4 linked regions of the Homo sapiens genome follow. The protein of the gene in region 2 purifies or fractionates together with the protein of the main gene of each other region. This does not show direct contact. Each region holds a gene or a part of one and is shown on either strand. Other genes may lie near its edges.

Region 1 (4,611 bases), on a different chromosome or scaffold from region 2:
TTCACACTTATTATTCATAGGTTATACACCTTTGCCCTATTCTGAAGGTTAATTTTTTTCTTACATATTTCTCACCAACGTATTTAATTTTTCCATGCTTTAGATTTGAATTTCTAGTTTGTCTTGTTTTAATTCAGTGTTATTGCTTCTGTCAGCCATGTACATATTCTCTAGCATTCTAATCTTTCTTTTTTTTTTTTTCTTGTTTTGCTTTTCTTAAAAGTGGGCAAATGTAATATAACTTCTATACTTTTTTTTAATTTACTTTAATAGTCATCTTACTGAGGAATAATTTACATACAATCAAGTGCATCCATTTTAAGGGTACAGTTCAATGATTTGACAAACCTAAGGGCATGTGAAAACACCGCCCCATTCAAGAGAAGGACCACTCCATTACCTCAAACCAGTCCCCTTGGGCCCTTTGTGTTAACTTGGAATGGCTTCTGTTTCTTATTTCATCTCTTTATCTACAGATCTTGTCACCCACCGAACCTGAGACCAGTACCCTAGTTATTCTCCACTGTATTCCCAGCTCCTGGCATAATGCTTATATAGTAGGCATTTAGTATGTATTTCTTGAATAAATTGTAATTTTGAATTTTGTAATCATTGCCTTCTAAAAGTTGTTTGAATCTTTTTGCTGCAAACCCTTTTTTCATTGTTTTGTTTTCATTATTGGTTATTGGTACTTTTCTTGAAGGTCTTTTTGATATTGCCTATGATATTTTGATAAGCTCATTTATTCATTAAACATGTATTGAATATCTTCTCTGTACCAGACACATACAGTGGTGAGCCAGAAAGATTAAAGTTCCTGCTATGTGGGGCTTACATTGTACCAGGAGCTCACATTATCAGAAAGAAACTTTCTGCTCTTCTTCACTCTGTTATATACCCAGAGTCCGTGTGACCTTCAAATGATCCTTGAGCTTCCTCTCCATAGGCATCGTGATCCATTTGATTATACACTACACACATACACACACCATAACCCCAAGGATGTTAAATAACTTCGAGAGAGAAGAGCCTGAACCAAGATTGGGGCTGAGGAGTTGGAGAAGTAGAGGTGATTCAGAAGGGATGTGGAAAGTTACGATTGGAAGATTTGTGATTGGTTGCATATAGGGAGTTCTGGGAAAGGAAAGAATTTAGGATGAGTCTCTAAGTATTTGACTTGGGCAGTTGACTGCATGAAGATTCTCCTACCTGAGGAAGGAAGTATTGGTCATCATGAGCACTTCAGGTTTTTGTTTGTTTGTTTGTTTGTTCTTGAGACATTGTCTTGCCCTGTAGCCCAGGCTGGAGTGCAGTGGCGCGATCTTGGCTCACTGCAACTTCCGCCTCCGGGTTCAAGCAGTTCTCCTGTCTCAGCCTCCCAGGTAGCTGGGATTACAGACATGTGCCACCGCACCCAGCTAATTTTTGTATTTTTAGTAGAGACAGGGTTTCACCATGTTGACCAGGCTGGTCTCAAACTCCTGACCTCGTGATCCGCCCGCCTTGGCCTCCCAGAGTGCTGAGATTACAGGCATGAGCCACCGCACCCAGCCAGGCACTTCGGTTTTGAATGTATTCACTGGAAGAGTCTATATTTTAGTTGACAAGTGCAAAAGGCAATTGGGTATATGGATTTGGACCTCAGAAGGAAGGTCTGGACTAGAGAAATATTGGTAGCCAATGGCATCTATATGGCAGGTGAAACCTTTGACAGATGCAATTACTGGCAGAGATCTTATGAATAAGAAAAATGGTTCACATATGTGCCCTAGAGAATACAGCATGTAAGGGGCAGCAGAATGAGATGAGCCCACAAAGGAGCTTGGGAAGGAGTAGCTAGGCCAGATATAGTGGCTCACACCTGTAATCCCAGCACTTTGAGAGGCCAAGGCAAGAGGATCACTGGAAGTCAGGAGTTTGAGACCAGCCTGGGCAGCATAGTGACACCCTCTCTCTACAAAATGAAAATTAGCAGGTCATGGTGGCATGCTGCTGTATTCCCAGCTACTTGGGAGGGTGAGGCGGAAGGATCGTTTGAGCCCAGGAGTTTGAGGCTACAGAGAGCTATAATAGGGCCATTGCACTTCAGCCTGGGTGACAGTGAAACCCTGTCTCTGAAAAAAGAAACCTAAAACTGGAGGTCTGTGTATTGCAATGAGTGCTCTTTAGACATTAAGACTTGAATATGAAGACTTGACCTCCAGAAATTAACAAGTAACAGTATCATGGAGGCATGCAACACAGTATTGTCAGATGGCATGACCTCAAAGATGCATAAGGGTGAATCAGTGATCTGAAAGCAGCAGCAGGCTCCCGGAATACACCAGCACCCTCCTCTGGGCCCTGTGGAATATGGGGACATGCTAGAATTTAGCAGCTTCCTCTTGCACATTTCAGTTAAGGCAAGTAGGTGGAGGATGTGTCCTTCCAAGTCATTGGAGGTAGATGAGTTTGCCCCACAGAGGCCAGTAGAAAGGATTCAGCTTTTATTGTTCCTAGGATACTTGAGTTCAGGTTACAGAGGACCAAGAAAAGGCACAGATGTGTTTATAGGATAGGTACACAGAGAAACCAGCACTTGAGATGCTGATGAAGATGACAGAAATGAAAGGCATTACATTAGGTGGTTTCCACATCACACATTGGATGCTAAAGCTGATATGAGCCTCCAAGTGCTCAGAGGCTGTGATTATGGCTGCATTTGGTGTTTCTGGGAGGGGACAGAGTAAAGCAGAACCTCAAGCACTGAAGAGCTTTCGTTACTGCCTGCTGTGCAACAGGGAAATTGGAGTTTTGAGTGGAAGAATCTCAGAAAAGAGTATAATCCTTGCAATGGTAAAAAGAACCTGTGGGCACTTGAGATCTAATGACAGAATGAAGAGCAAAGGCTGGGGTGGAGAAGGAAAGCCAAATGGGAGTCTCCTGTGCAAAGAAGCACCAAGAAACTGCCAAGCTTCAGGAGAGTGGAAAGGGCAGTGTGTGTGCGAGCATCATCACCTCACTGTTTCTGTGGCTGTGGGGCTGCTGCTTTGTATTTGGTTGTGTTGCCCTTTCTGCGTTAGTTTTTCATGCCGTATTTCAGACAGCGTCTGACTCATTAGGATCATCCTAATGCACAGCATTGTGTAGCACCTAGCTGCCATTTTCACAGCAACTTCTGCAAATTTTTCTTTGAAATATTCTTGCTCAGTGGTATGGTCAAGAGGCTGATAGCCAGAATCTGCAAAAAAGAAAAGCAAAGAAAAAAGAAAAAAAAAAAAGCAAATGATAAAAACCAGGGCAGGGCCAGGATTGAAATAACTGGTGATTAGCCCCCTCCCACCAAATTTGAAGATTCACTCAGATTTTTGATGACTTTCACAAAGCTGTGATCATTCGAAATAAGAATTCTTACAACTAAGGAAGAAACTCTTCATGCAGTAGTAGTTTTGTGGTTCTGAGCCAGTGAAATATTTTCCCTTAGGGCGAAGAATAACACTGGGTGCTTTAAGTGAGGCAGAAAGAGCAGGAAAGAGAGGAGGGAACCATTACAGCATTCATCTCGAAAGTGCATCGAAAATTTGAATCATGACTCTTGATTGCTTTAGACACATTTAATTCCAAGATCTAGAGCTGCTTTTCTTTAGGTAAGGACTTTGGAGAGCTGGGGAGACAAACAAGTATACATAGCAGAATATCCTGACCCTGGGCCTTGAGCTCAGTTGATATAAATTGTTGAGTGTTTTAAGCTATTTTCTCATTTCCTTAAACTTTGGAAGACCTTAGGTCTTTACATTCCAAACAGTACTCCTTTTTTCCTAGCTATTCTAAGCTAGTTACTAGCTTTTAGAAAAATGAGTTTAGCAATAGCTACTGTTGCCCATTTTGTTTTTCCAAGAAGCCCATGCAGCATACGAAATGAAAAATTTAAACAATAGATGATTCCTGGAGGTAAATTCATGTTATAAACCAATTTTGCCTGTGGAACAAATATTAGAATTAAATTATTTTGTCCCCTCTTTGCTGCCATCATTGCCAAAAAAGAAACTGCTTTGGAGGAGTATGTGGTTGTCAAGAAGAACAGTGATGCTGTGTTTTATAAATAGCCATTAGGCTATGCAAGAAAGTGCCAGAAATTGCTGTTAATTTACCTAGCTGCTATCTAAAATCTTGTTAGATTAGCAGCTGCACCTGAGGAGAGTCTGTATCTGATGTATTCCATTTGTAAAATCCTCCCATATCCCTTTAGAAGTGAATGAGCCCCAGTTATTTAGCAGCTGCTAGTACATGGATTCCATGCCCAATCGCTGTAGCCCTTTAGGATTGATACTGAGCGCTCAGCAGCTCCTCTGAAATACTCCAGCTGGTTCACAGAGGGTTAAGATCAAAGTCTCAGCAGTGTCTTACATTCTAAGTACCGGTTCCTAAACTCTTCCCTTCTCCTTTATGATTCCTAGTATCATAAGATTTAGTTTTACTCTTGCTTTTAAATGCAAATAGACCTGACATTTGAATTTTTTAATGTAAAATGCCTTTTTACTTTAAAAAACTTTATCTGAAACAATTTGTCCTTTTTAAGATAAAGTTTCCCAATAAGTTATATGAGCTCCCAACACCCCCTCCGCGCTGCTC
Region 2 (4,380 bases):
TTTTATTTTTGATAGAGTTGGAGTTTCACTATGTTGCCTAGGCTGGTCTCAAACTCCTGAGCTTAAGCAGTCCACCAGCCTCAGCCTCCAAAATGCTGGGATTACAGGGATAAGCCACTGCACCCAGCCGAGACTGGACAATTTCTAAATGACAGAATTTATTGCTCATAGTTCTGGAGGCTGGGAAGTCCAAGATCAAGGCACCAGCAGATTTGGTGTTTGGCAAGGGTGTATTCCTCATAGGTAGTACTTTCTCCCTGTATCCTCACAGGTGAAACAAGCTCCTTCAGGGCCTCTTTTATAAGGACACTAATCCCATTTATGAAGGCAATGTCCTTATGATCTAATTATCTCCCAAAAGCCCCACTTCTTAATACCATCACCTTGGGGATTAGGTTTCAATGTATGAATTAATGGGGGGGACACAACATTCAGACCATAGCAGGGTCCAACTTCATTCTTTTGTATTCTTCATTCTAGTGTTCCCAGCACCACTTGCTGAAAAGACTGTTCTTTCCCCTTTCACAAGAGTGTGAATTGTCTTGGCACCCTTGTCAGAAAAACATTTGACCATATATGTGAGGGTTTATTTCTGGGCCTCTATTCTATTCCATTGGTCTTTATGTCTGTCTTTATGCCAGTACTACACTGTTGTGAACACCGATACTCCTTTATGTGGAAATCTTCCAGGTAAGGTTGGGTGGATGGATGTGTGTGTGTCTGTGTGTCTATGCAAGGAAAACTCTTAAATAACAGACTGTACACTTGCCAAATGTTAATGGGTCATTCTTCTCCATATTTTGAGATTTATATTAGAAAGTTATGGCTACATCCTAACTTGAACCACTTGGTCTCACAAAACAGAGACTGTTTCTAAGGAGAGGTGGGGAATGTTGGTGGACACCAAATGTCTTTCCCCTGGACCTTAAACTCTGATTCCAGTCAGTCTCATATGACTTCTGCTACATTTCCCCACAGTTTCAATCTTTTTTTTTGAGACAGAGTCTTGCTCTGTTGCCCAGGCTGGAGTGCAGTGGTGTGATCTGGGCTCACTGCAACCTTCACCTCCCAGGTTCAAGCAATTCTCCTGCCTCAGCCTCCCAAGTAGCTGGGACTACAGGCACCCACCACCACACCCAGCTAATTTTTGTATTTTTTAGTAGAGATGGGGTTTCACTATGTTGGCCAGGCTGGTCTCAAACTCCTGACCTCGGGTGATCCACCCACCTCAGTCTCCCAAAGTGCTGGGATTACAGGCATGACCCCGGCCCACAGTTTCAATCTTTTAATACCTTAAATATTTAAGTTACTAAAATAGCTAAGAAAAATTGTTCATTTTAAGTGCTAATTATTCCCTTTTCTTTTTTCTATTATTAAATATGTATTTTATGAATAAAAAGTTAATGTTTTTAACTAGGAATTAAAATGTACTTCTGATTTTTAGGTTTGTTTTGTGCCAGTTGTCATTTTTCATACACACACACACACACACACACACACACACACGCACACACCCCACCATCAACACCACCACCACCGTCGTTTCTGTAAACCAATCAACAGTGGAGACACTAGAGACTATTATATGAAAACTGTTTATTCTATAGCCTACTGGGAATTGGCCAGAAGTTAGAAGGACATTGGAAATGACTTTTAAATCTCCATTTGAGAAAAAGCATGCCATGAGTCTAAATAACCAATTTCATTTAGCAAACAAAATACAAGTAAACAAAACACAACTTCTCTGATGAATGAAGTGGTTACCATATTTTTTCCCATTGTGTAAAGATAGTTCTCATATGAAATATATCACCTAAGCAGTAGTAATCAGAATATTCTGCAAACTTATTGGGGGTAATTTAAACCCCAAATCGGAAGAATAGAATAAAAGACATAAAAGTCTTTCTTCAAAAGAAAAACAAAACAAAACAAAAAACAATACCCCTTCGGTGTCAAATGATACAGAAATGGCACTGGTTTCCTATATGTTGACTGAGATACTTTTTACTGCATAGCAAATTAAAAAGATATGCTCATCCCACTTTTATTTTTATGCACTACTTTTAGTTCTGCAGAAATAAAAGCTATACTGAATTTAAAACTTTTTACACACATAATCCTGTGCAAACTATGTAATACTTTGTTTGTAGGATATTAACCCAACTTTCTAATATATTTTGTATATGTCTCTTTTTGTTTATTTGAGACAAAGTCTCACTCTGTCACCCAGGCTGGAGTGCAGTGGTGCAATCACAGCTCACTGCAGCTTCGACCTCCTGGGCACAGGTGATCTCACTTCAGCTTCCCGAGTAGCTGGGACCACAGGCGTGCACCACCAGGCCTGGCTAACTTTTTGTATTTTTTTTTTTTTTTTTGTAGAGACGAGGTTTTACCATGTTGCCCATGTGGGATATTTTGTATACATTTCAAAAGGCAACTACAAAAATTGGTTTTTCATATTTCTACAAATATTTTATGGAATGTTTAATATCTTGTAAATGTGGAAGCTGTGACAAATTTTTGTATTTAGAAAGTATGACAATCTGAAAATCAACATTTTACAGAAGTGACACCATTCTGTTGAAACTGGAGTATACTGCACTTATATATCATTATTTCTAATATACACCTAGTTATTAGAGAAATTAGTGCACTAAAGGACAGTGGTGGTTTTTAAAAATGATTTCTTCACTGTGGCAAGTTTGTCCTCCTCTGTCCAAAGCAACAATTGAACCAACAGGCCCTTCTAATCTTATGCCAGCAACACAATGGGATCGAGGCCAGGTTCTTGTGCAATTTGTGAAACCTTTGGTTTGCAGAGTTGTTAGCGTAGTGGCTCGGCTCATCAGCTCTGAGCATTTGAATATCTAATGTTTCAAACTGTTAGTCCTGTTCTGATTTATATTCATCCCTGCCATTCCTATTAACTTAATTACACCTGCCCACAACTTAATTTACTTGCCTTTGTTACTACAGTTTGAACTCCAGCTACATTTTTCTAAGAAATTAAATTGCTAGGTTTTTATAGCTGACTGCACTCTTAGAACTTCTCTACAGACTTTATGATCTTTTTGGACTTTACTTTTTAGCACATCTTAGGAACTATTATGAAGTTTTCTCGCAGCACACTTGAAGTTAAATAGCTTTTTCCAAGTTTAATACAGTTTGATGGCTCTTCTCGGGGTGTAGATGAGTGGGGGCACTTACATTGCCCGTTGGAGGAGACTCTGCCTTCTGCTCAGCCAAAAATCAGTGTGAATCCCTTTGACTGTTCCATCTTTCCCCATATCAAACCTAAATTATTGATCTTCCACCTGTTCTCATTTCTTCTGTCCTGTCTCTTGTTGAGTCACAACAGCTGTTCCCCATGCTCTGCGTGGTAACATTCCACATGGTACTCCATAAAAGCCTGATATAGATGACCTCTCTATAACAGAACTGCAATTATTCTTGTCATGCTTCAGTTGTTTCTGTGGCTCTCCTCTGGACTCTCTCCAAATTCTCCTGCTCAGTTTTAGCAAGCTGGCCTGGAGTTCTCTCACACGGTCTGGCTAGCACAGTAATTTGCTTGTGGTTAAAAGCCTTTGTGCTCAGTACTGAGACTGCCACATAATGAATTTTCATTTCCATTTTATTCTGAACTTGCAAACATCAGAGATTCGTGCTATCTTCAGTGTTTAAGTGGTAATGCCTTTTGTAAAATAAAGGAGGCTGCAGGCCAGGCACCGTGGCTCATGCCTGTAATCCCAAAGCTTTGTGAGGTGGAGGCGGGCAGATCACTTGAGGTCAGGAGTTCGAGACCAGCCTGGCCAACATGGCGAAACCCCATCTCTGCTAAAAATAGAAAAATTAGCCAGGCGTGATGGTGCATGCCTGTAATCTCAGCTACTTGGGAGTTGAGGAATGAGCACTGTTTGAACCCAGGAGACGGAGGTTGCAGTGAGCAGAGCCGAGATCGCACCACTGCACTCTAGTCGGGGTGACAGAGTGAGACTCCATCTCAAAAATTAAAAAAAAAAAAAAAAAAAGCCTGTGGTTATTTTGATGGGATAGCAAGGATAACATGAACCATGTAAGGTTTGGCATAAATAGTTCATAGTTGACCTGGTCTGTCTGACTGTCTGAGATGTCACTGAGTCATTTGATGACCTTGAAATGCTAAAGCATTGGAATGAATGTCTGTAGATCAGGACAGAGGTGGGTTCAGAGAACTATTTAGGAGACATCTGGGTGGGAGTTGTGGCCAACACTGATTACAGGTGAGCACTGGGGAAAAAAGCCAGGATTGCAAGGAGTTAAAGATCACCCATTCAAGAAGTTTGGCAGAAGGAGCAAGACAGGAAATTTATTCATTTAGTGGCAGTCAGAGGTAACAATATA
Region 3 (4,611 bases), about 130 Mb from region 2:
GAGCCCTATTTTCAGATGAGGAAGTAGCAGAGAAGGGTCAGGAGCTCACTCAAGGTCACTCCTGGTTCAGAAGCAGAAAGGACCTGGGCCCGAAGCTCAGGCCTTGGTGACCATCACAAAGAAAACATGGCGTATCCTCTCCCCTGCCCCTCCATTTCCCTGTACCCTGAGCTCTTAGGGACGGCCAGGCCTGGTCCTGGTTGTAACCACCTCTCCAGTGAGGATCTCTTACATGCATACCCCGGCTGGTGGGTGGCATCCATGTCTGCAGTAAGCTGTGGGCTTAGGTGGGCCCGTCGGTGTGCTTCCCTCACCCCTTGCTGGCCTTAGGCTGTGTGTTCACCTCTCAGAGCTTTCCCTGTCTTTTGCGCCCTGGTTTACCATCTCCAAAGCCCTGGAGGCCTTCTTGGCCCTGTTTTATAGGTGAGGAACCCGCTGCGGGCGTAGTGTGCACTTGGCCTGGCCCCGGCTGGGCACACAGTAGGTGCTCAGTGTCCCACCTAGGACCACACAGCAGAGCCCCAACAGAAGCAGGGCTGGAGCCCAGGTCCCGGCTCCCAGGCTGGGAAGGGTGCCGGGCCTCAGGTGCAGCACTGTGCCACCTCTGGAGGTGGGAGGGGGCGGGATGCTGGTGGTGTGCTGTCCTGGGCAGCAGGGGACAGGCAGGGAGGAGCTCCTGGCTCGCTCTTGCTCTCCTAATGCTGGCCTTTGCTCCCTGCAGGGTCAGGATAAACATGAAGAATATTTTGCTGAGAACTTCGGCGGCCCAGAAGGGGAGTTCCACTTCTCAGTCCCGCATGCAGCCGGAGCCTCCACAGACTTCTCTTCAGCCTCCGCTCCCGACCAGTCAGCGCCCCCATCCCTGGGTCATGCCCACAGCGAGGGCCCAGCTCCTGCCTACGTGGCCAGTGGACCCTTTAGAGAAGCCGGGTTCCCCGGCCAGGCCTCCTCCCCTCTGGGCAGGGCCAACGGGAGGCTCTTTGCAAACCCCAGAGACTCATTCTCTGCCATGGGCTTTCAGCGAAGGTTCTTCCACCAGGACCAATCCCCTGTTGGGGGCCTCACAGCCGAGGACATTGAGAAGGCCCGGCAGGCTAAGGCTCGCCCCGAGAACAAGCAGCACAAACAGACGGTGCGTATGGGAGGCCCCTGGAGGGCCGAGGTAGCTGCCACCCACAGCAGTGATGGCCTTGGGCTCTGCTCTAGGGACTTTTCCTGGGTGCTGTGGTCTGGGGTTTTTAGGAGCGTGGTGGCCTTCTCTTGGTGGAGTGTGCTGTCAGGCGGAGCTGCTGACTGTGGGGTGGAGAGGAGATGTGGGGGCAACAGGAGCCTCTGAAGGTTGGTCCTGTCCCCTTGGCTGATTCCACAGGTCTCTTTCTCGTCTCCCTCCAGCTCAGCGAGCATGCCCGGGAGCGGAAGGTGCCTGTGACGAGGATTGGCCGGCTGGCCAACTTCGGAGGTAAGGTGGCTGTGTGCCCCTGGACTGCCTCACCTGCCCTGCCTGGGCACCACGCTGCGGCCTGCATGGAGGTGGGGACCCAGCAATATCCCGGGGAGGGCGTTGGGGGAGCAGGTGGCGGTGGCCGCCCCTGCATGAGCTTTTGGGGAGCTGGAGTTTTTCATGGGAGGATGATTCAGTTACTGGATTCCAGCTCTGCCTGGCTCTCCCCTGCGGGTTGGTACAGGGCCGATGCTGTGCCAGGAGCTGAGTTTGGATTGCCCGGCAGGCCTCGCCTGGAGGCGGTGTCTGCAGCATCTCTGTTTCACCCCTGCCTCAGGTTCACTACCAGTCGGCTGCTTTGGAGGCCTCTCAGGAAGGAGGCTGGGCAGTGAGGAAAAGCTCTTCCCTGGGGCTGTTCAGCAACTCAGCAGGGCTTTCTTTCCCCCTGGGACCAGACATTTAGGGAGCCCATTTGCTGGGTCCCCACAGGCCTGCGGCTCATGAGTGGAGTGACAAGATGCCATGGCCTCCAGCTGCTGCTGTTTAAAGCCGTTTGTCTGTACTTTGGGGGGTTGAGTTGTCATTGTGCCCAGTACACATGCGCTCTTTTTATAGAAGTTGAAGGGTGATTTTATAGTGAAGGTTTATAGCAGTTGTGTCTGCTTTGATGGCATCATGTTTGTCATGCTGCTGCTAATGCGCTGGCCCAGATGTTCCTGTTAAAGTGCCATCTCCTTTGCTGTGGTACACTCTAAGTTAGTTACTGGGATTGCATTTCTTTAACACTCAGCTGTCCTCAGTAGGTTCTCCAGGTGATATAATTAATGGAAGCCACAGTTTTGGTGGCTTGATTTGGACCCTGACCTTGGGTGAGTGGTTAGTTCCAGGGCTGTAGGCAGCAGAGGTCTGAGTGGTCCATGATGGTGCTGGTGCTGGGTGGGGCATGGAGATGCACTCTCATGGGTCTGCCTGTCTCTTTGCTGGTTTATGTTTTTCCTCCCATACACCATCCATCATACATGCTGTTCCTCCGCTCCTGCCTATTCTCTTTTGGAAACCCCATCCTACTTGTTCAAGACTGGTTCTGGGCAGAGGCTCACGTACTGTGCTCCCCGAGAGCCTGGTATTCTGGGAGCTGCGTAATGTGTGTGGGTTCTGACATTGAATGATGGCTGGCCCCCCTCTCCAAGGTGCTGAGCAGACTTGGTTAACTGGATAGAATTTTCTCAGCAGTAAGGTTTTCTTTCATAATTTTTACCTTAATATTTGGCATCCACTGTACTTAGCCATTCAGGAATTTAGTATGAAGTGTCATCTATGTGACAGCCAAGAGTATTTGCTTATTTCCTTTTCCTGGGGTAACATTTCAAGCAGTCCCTCATAGAATATCACACCTCCCTGAGTTCTGCTGTCAGAATGAGTTTGAGAATCACTGCCTTGGTGGCCTCTAGTGGTCCTTATCCCCTGGAAGACTTGGCATGTTACTTGCTTTGCACATTGGCTTGTCATTGGGTAACATGTATTATTTCTTATTAAAATATTGAATGGAGGCTGTCTTCTTTCCCCATGATATTGAGGGCAGGAGCTACCCTGTTTTCACATCGGTACCTTTTCTCTGTCCCCTCCCTCTTCCTTTCACTCTAGACTCTTGGTGAGCCTGTCCCTGGAAGGCTGAGTTTGACGTGTTTCAGGACTGGTGCAGTCCTCACTTCGGAGTCTTTGTGGGGTGGGGAGAAGCGGTAGAGCTAATGCAGGCTGTTAGGGAAAAGTGGTCAGAATGAAAGTCTTGATGGTGAATTAGAATCTGGTGGAGCACCACGAAGTCCTGGCGAAGGAGGCAGTAGTCAGACCCTTTTGGGTGACGGGTTAAGGAAGACAGAGACTGATGTGGAAGGGGTTATATATAGGAAGATGTGTAGGAAGAAAAAGGTAGAGAGCTCTCCTCAGAGGGTGGGGGATTATGGGTAGCCAGAGGGAGCCTGGGTTAGTGGAGTTGAAGCCCTAGTCTTGGGTGCTTTGTAGCATCAGAAGCCTCTGGAGCCTTTGCTGACACCTGCCTGATGTACGGAGCCATCTGTGGGTGTCTGTGTGCTGGAGGATTGCCCACAGCTATGATTCAGAGATGCTCATGTTGTTGCCCAAGCAATTGACAGATGATGTTTCAGGCTTGGAGATGGCAGGATGGGAGCAAAGAGAAGCCAGGTCAGGAAAGAACGTGCCGTTCTGGCCCTAGTGGGGAATTCTGGGCCTTCTGGCTCACCCAGTTGAACCTTTCAAACTGTAGGTTATGACCCTTTAGTAACTGTGAAATTAATTTAATGCATCAGGATCAGCATATAAAAAACAAGTTAACTGTAATCTCAGCACTTTGGGAGGCCGAGGTGGGAGAATCACCTGAGGTCAGGAGTTTGAGACCAGCCTGGCCAACATGGTGAAACCCCAATTCCTACTAAAAAAATACAAAAATTAGCTAGGTGTGGTGGCATGTGACTGTAATCCCAGCTACTCGGGAGGCTGAGGCACAAGAATTGCTTGAGCCCAGGAGGGAGAGGTTGCAGTGAGCTGAGATTGCGCCACTGCACTCCAGTGGGGGCGACAGAGTGAGACTCTGTCTCAAAAAACAAGTTAAACAGAATGGAATTCAATAGAAAAGATTAGAATTAATATCGTACATCCTTACAATGAACTATACACATGGCAAGATATTTTAGTTTCAGAGACATACATACTATTTAAGTATGTTCTTCACTACAATGTGAAATATATAGCTTACTGGTGGGTCATCATCCAAACAGTTTGTAGTTGCACTGTTGCGCTTTGTTCTCCTAGAAAATACCTCTAGCCTTTCTTCCCTTCATGGAGGAAAGGTGTTTTTCAGGTGCAGACTGACAGACTTTAGGAAGTTTTTACACGGGGTTATGAAGGAAAGGGATTGCTCTAGGTCTCAGGGAGGTAGGGCTGCTGCAGGGACCCAGACGGGTTTTCAGCGAGGTTGGCAGTAGGTATTCAGCTATATAGAAGTGGAAGTCAAGGACTTTCCAATTCCAGGGGCTCATTTTGATGCTGAAATGGGGGCGGGGCATGAGTCCTAAGTCCAATTTGGCTATGGGACATTATGACTGTGATGCTATGGGCAGGATGATCTGTGGATATTAGATTTTCTTAAAGAG
Region 4 (4,611 bases), on a different chromosome or scaffold from region 2:
GTAAAGGAATTTGAGTTCCTTTTAATATAAATAGAGGGATAACTTTCCTGAATAATCACTAATATATGGTGTCCCAAAAGTCTTAGTGTAGTTTTAAGCTATAATTTCTGAAGTATATATGCTACAAACTTAACAAAAAATTCTTTTGAAAGTTTAATTATTTAAATATGTTATATACATATTTATCTTGGTAATTTTGAATAATATACCTTTAATTTTGATATTTTGTTTCAGTCCCTTTGAAGATGGTAAACATTTAGCAGTAGGAGCCAGGCTACTCTATTCCTCTTTTTGTAAGGCACCAAGAACTTACAAAAATCAAATAATAGGAAATGTTTCCATTTCTCTAATGACTGGCTTTTGTGATTTGCGGTCTCCCCACAGAGTATCTGGACCTTCTTCATTGAGAACAATGTTTCCCATAGTACACTGGTGGCATTGTTCTATCATTTTGTTCAAATAGTTCATAAGAAGAATGTCAGTGTACAGTATCGAGAATATGGCCTTCATGCCGCTGGGCTTTACTTTTTGCTACTAGAAGTACCAGGTATGTAGACCTGATATGATAGGATAAATCTTCTGTCATTTTTTTCTTTCTACAGTTTTCAATTCTTATACTTTGTTTCTTGTTTCTTCACTTATAAATGGGGCAGTGCTAACCCATGGCAGAGAGTTGTTGCGAGGAGCAAGTCTCTAAAGTACATGGCATGTTATAGGTCTTGGAAAACCTTCCCCCTTTTTTTTTTCATCCGAAGTTATGCTATCTATAAACTAATAAAAATAGTCTGAGAAGGAGTGCAAGAGTTCCACGCCCACCCTCCACCACGGCCGTCTAAAATTCTGATATTGCCCTTTCTTCTCATGATTCCTTGTCTAGACTGAGAAATACTGCTGTGGGGAGTCATTGCTTTTTACCTCTCCGATGTTGGTATTGAAAAATAGATTAAAACCATTCTAATCAAGAAAGCAGGAAAGCAGCTAGTAATACTTGAAGGAGAGCACTGACCAGGAGTCTGTTTTCGAGCACTGTTTTACTTGATTGTCAGAGCACTGAGGAGGCTGTTCCTCCTATGACAGTGAAATCCATTCTCTTCCCTACTCCAAACACAGGGTGAGAGAGAGTGGAACATAGAGATTGAGTCAGATAACCTGAAGTTCATATGGAAAAGAGAATGGCAAGATCAGTCACCTTGCTGCTTATCTTTGTTTAATTACAAATGTTTAGCAAAGGATTTATTCCATGTGATCTGGGAATGGGCAAAAAGGTCTTATATTTAAAGCCCTGAACATTGATTTGTGTTGTTGTTAATGCTCCCATCATGACTTTGGAAATGAGTAAGTTCCTAAAGGATTTTGTTGCTAAGCAGTGTCTCGGTTGTAACTAGGCCCTCTCTCAAAAAAGTAGTGGTTTTAGAAACCCAGTTTCACTCTCCTCTTGCCAGATGCAGTTTCTTCTGATTAAGGTTGAGATTTATGCCAGAGCAAAGAGGTGGCTGTTACTAATTGCGTGGGCCACTTGCAGCTTTCCAGCAAGCCGTATTCCTGCCAGTTACCTTCTGTTTTTAAATGTTTCGGGTTTATGATTGGGATGCTGTCGATACTTAACATTCGATCACAGTATATTCTTTTTCAGGATCGTTTTGGTTGTTCTGCCTCCCTTGCATTTCCATGTGAATTTTAGGATCTGTACGTGAATTTCTGCAACAATAAAAAAGCCAGCTGCGGTTTTGACAGGGATTGCATTGAAACTGTAGATGAGTTTGTGAAGTATTGCCAATTTAACAACATTAGGTCTTCTAATCCCTAGCCGCAGGATGTCTTTCCATTTATTGTAGATCTTCTTTAATTTGTTTCAATAATGCTCTATAATTTTTGGTGCGCAACTCTTGCATCTCCCCTTTAAAATTTATTCTTAAGTGTTATTTTCAATGCTAGTGTAAATGAAATTGTTTTCTTAATTTTATTTTGGTTTATTAGTACTGTATAGAAGCAAAATTGATTTTGATTATTGATCTTCTATCCTAGAACCTTGCCAAACTCATTTGTTGGTTCCAACAGGGTTTTCTTTGTGTAAGATCATGTCATCTGTGAATAGACACAGGTTTACTTCTTTCTTTCTAGTCTGGGTTCTTTCTATTTATTTTTCTTACCTATTTGCCCTGGCTAGAACCTCCAGTACAGTGTTGAATAGAAGGGGAGCGTGGGGATCCTTGTCTATTCCTGATCTTAAGGGGAAAGCATCCAGTCTTGCCTTTAGGTATGATGTTACCTGTGGGTTTCTCAGGATGGCCCTTATTAAGTTATTATTCCTAGTTTACTGAGTGCTTCATTATGAAAGGCTGTTGGATTTTGTCATTCGCTTTTCTGCACTTGTGAAGTGCTCATGTGGTTTTTGTTTCTTATTCTAATATAGTATATTACATTGGTTGATTTTCACATATTAAACCAATTTTGTATGACCTTGGTCATGGTGTATAATCCTTTTTATATGTTGTCAGAGTGTTTGCTAATATTTTGTTGAAGGTTTTTTGTCTATATTCATAAGGGATATTCTTTTTTTGAGATATTTTTGTCTGGTTTGAGTATCTGGGTATCTTGGTAATACCATTTTCATAGAATAAGTTACATAGTATTCCCTTCTCTTCTGTATTTTGGAAGATTTTGGGTTTTCTTTTTTCTTCAGATGTTTGGTAGAACCCACTAGTGAAGTCATCTGGGCCTGGAGTTTTTTGAAAGAAGTTTATGTTTGTAGAATTTCTAGTGATCTCCTCTCATGCCTGATGTTGGTGATTTGTATTTTGTTTTTTCTTGATCAATCTAGATCGAGATTTATTCATTTTACTGTTCATTTTGGAGGGCCCCCTTTTGATGTCATTAATTAAATTCTGTTGTTTGTCCCTTTCTTGTTTCATTGATTTCTGGTCTTATGTCTACGATTTCCTTTCTTCTTACTTTGGGTTTAATTTGCTCTTATTCTGACTTTTTAAGGTAGATGCTTAGATCTTTGTTCTCACATGCATTTCTTTGTTTCTAATACAAGTATTTAATACTATAAATGTCCCTCCAGGTACAGCTTCATCTGCATCCCACAAATTTCGATGATATGTTTTTACTGTTGTGCAGGCCAAAGTGATTTTCAAATTTTTCTTGTCATTACTTACATCTCTGAGTTGTTTAGTAAATTGAGTTTATTTTCCAAATATTTGAACTTTCCTGAAATCTTACTGTAATTGAGTTTTAATTGGTGGGATCAGAGAACATACTTCATATGATTATGATACTTTTAAATTATTTAGTTGTGCCTTTTTTTTTAATGGACTTAGAGTCTAATTTGGTGAATCTTCCATTTGCACTTTAACAGAATGTGTACCTTGCCTTTGTTGGATCTAGTATTCTGTAAATGTCAGTTAGGTCAAGTTGGTTACAAATGTTATTCAAGACTTACATATGCTTCCTGATGTTCTGTTTATTTGTTCTATCTGTTGTTGAGAGAGGAATGTTGGAATCTCTAAGAATAATTATCAGTTTATCTATTTCTCCTCTCAGTTCTTTTAACTTAAGATATTGTGAAAGTCTGACGGATACAGATGTATTTATGATTGTCATGTCTTCCTGATGGATTGGTCCTTTTAGTATTATGTTATGTCCTTGTTTGTCTGGTTATATTCCTTGTCTTGAAGTCTACTTTGTCTAATACTAAGATAGCCACTATAGTTATCTTAAGATTTGTCCTTGGTTGGTACATCATTTCTCATGCTTTTATTTGTAACCTATCCATATGTTTATATTTAAAGGTTTTCTTGTAGACTGCCTGTCACGTGGTCATGGCTTTTCTTTTTCTTTTTTTTTTTTTTAAGAGAGACGAGGCCACACACGGTGGCTCACACCTGTAGTCCCAGCACTTTGGGAGGCTGAGGCGGGCGGATCACTTGAAGTCAGGCATTTAAGACCAGCCTGGCCAACATGGTGAAACCCCGTCTCTACTAAAAATACAAAAATTAGCCGGATATGGTAACACGTCTGTAATCCCAGTTACTCGGGAGGCTGAGGCAGGAGAATCGCTTGAACCCAGGCAGTAGAGGTTGCAGTGAGTTGAGATCGTGCCACTGCACTCCAGCCTGGGTGACAGTGAGACTCTGTCTCAGAAAAAAAAAAGAGAGGTCCAGGGTCTCAGTCTGTCACCCAGGCTGGAGTGCAGTGGCAATCATAGCTCACTTTAACCTTGAACTCCTGGGCTCCTCAGCCTCCAGAATAGCTGGAACTACAAGTGTGAGTCACCATGACAAGCTAATTATTATTACTTTATTTTATTTTTGTAGAGACAGGGTCTCGCTATGTTGTTGCCCAGGCTGGTCGCAATCTCTTGGCCTCAAGTGATCCTCCTGCTTCAGCCTCCCAAAGGGCTGGGATTGTAAGCATGAGCCCTCACACCCAGCCCATTTGGTCATGCTTCTTTCTGACAATGTTTGCTTTTGTATCAGAATGTTTAAATTGTTTAGCTGATTACATTTAGAGTAATTATCAATGTAGCTGGGTTTCTGCCATTTTTCTATTTATTTTCTATTTCTTTAAACCTGTTTTTTGCTCAATTTTTTCCTCTTCCTGCCTTGT

What was found.
Region 1: the proteins of DBT (region 2) and LYRM4 purify together in Homo sapiens (co-immunoprecipitation; one large-scale study listed by IntAct). This does not show direct contact.
Region 3: the proteins of DBT (region 2) and COQ8A purify together in Homo sapiens (co-immunoprecipitation; one large-scale study listed by IntAct). This does not show direct contact.
Region 4: the proteins of DBT (region 2) and NCAPD3 purify together in Homo sapiens (co-immunoprecipitation; one large-scale study listed by IntAct). This does not show direct contact.

The regions. Positions count from the first base shown.
Region 1 is NC_000006.12:5,218,355-5,222,965, reverse strand, and holds part of LYRM4 (LYR motif-containing protein 4), read left to right. Parts: intron 1-4,611.
Region 2 is NC_000001.11:100,185,343-100,189,722, forward strand, and holds the end of DBT (lipoamide acyltransferase component of branched-chain alpha-keto acid dehydrogenase complex, mitochondrial isoform 1 precursor), read right to left. Parts: 3' UTR 1,577-4,380; downstream 1-1,576. UniProt on the Homo sapiens protein: The branched-chain alpha-keto dehydrogenase complex catalyzes the overall conversion of alpha-keto acids to acyl-CoA and CO(2).
Region 3 is NC_000001.11:226,964,279-226,968,889, forward strand, and holds part of COQ8A (atypical kinase COQ8A, mitochondrial), read left to right. Parts: intron 1-721; coding exon 722-1,132; intron 1,133-1,392; coding exon 1,393-1,459; intron 1,460-4,611. UniProt on the Homo sapiens protein: Atypical kinase involved in the biosynthesis of coenzyme Q, also named ubiquinone, an essential lipid-soluble electron transporter for aerobic cellular respiration.
Region 4 is NC_000011.10:134,212,872-134,217,482, reverse strand, and holds part of NCAPD3 (condensin-2 complex subunit D3), read left to right. Parts: intron 1-384; coding exon 385-547; intron 548-4,611.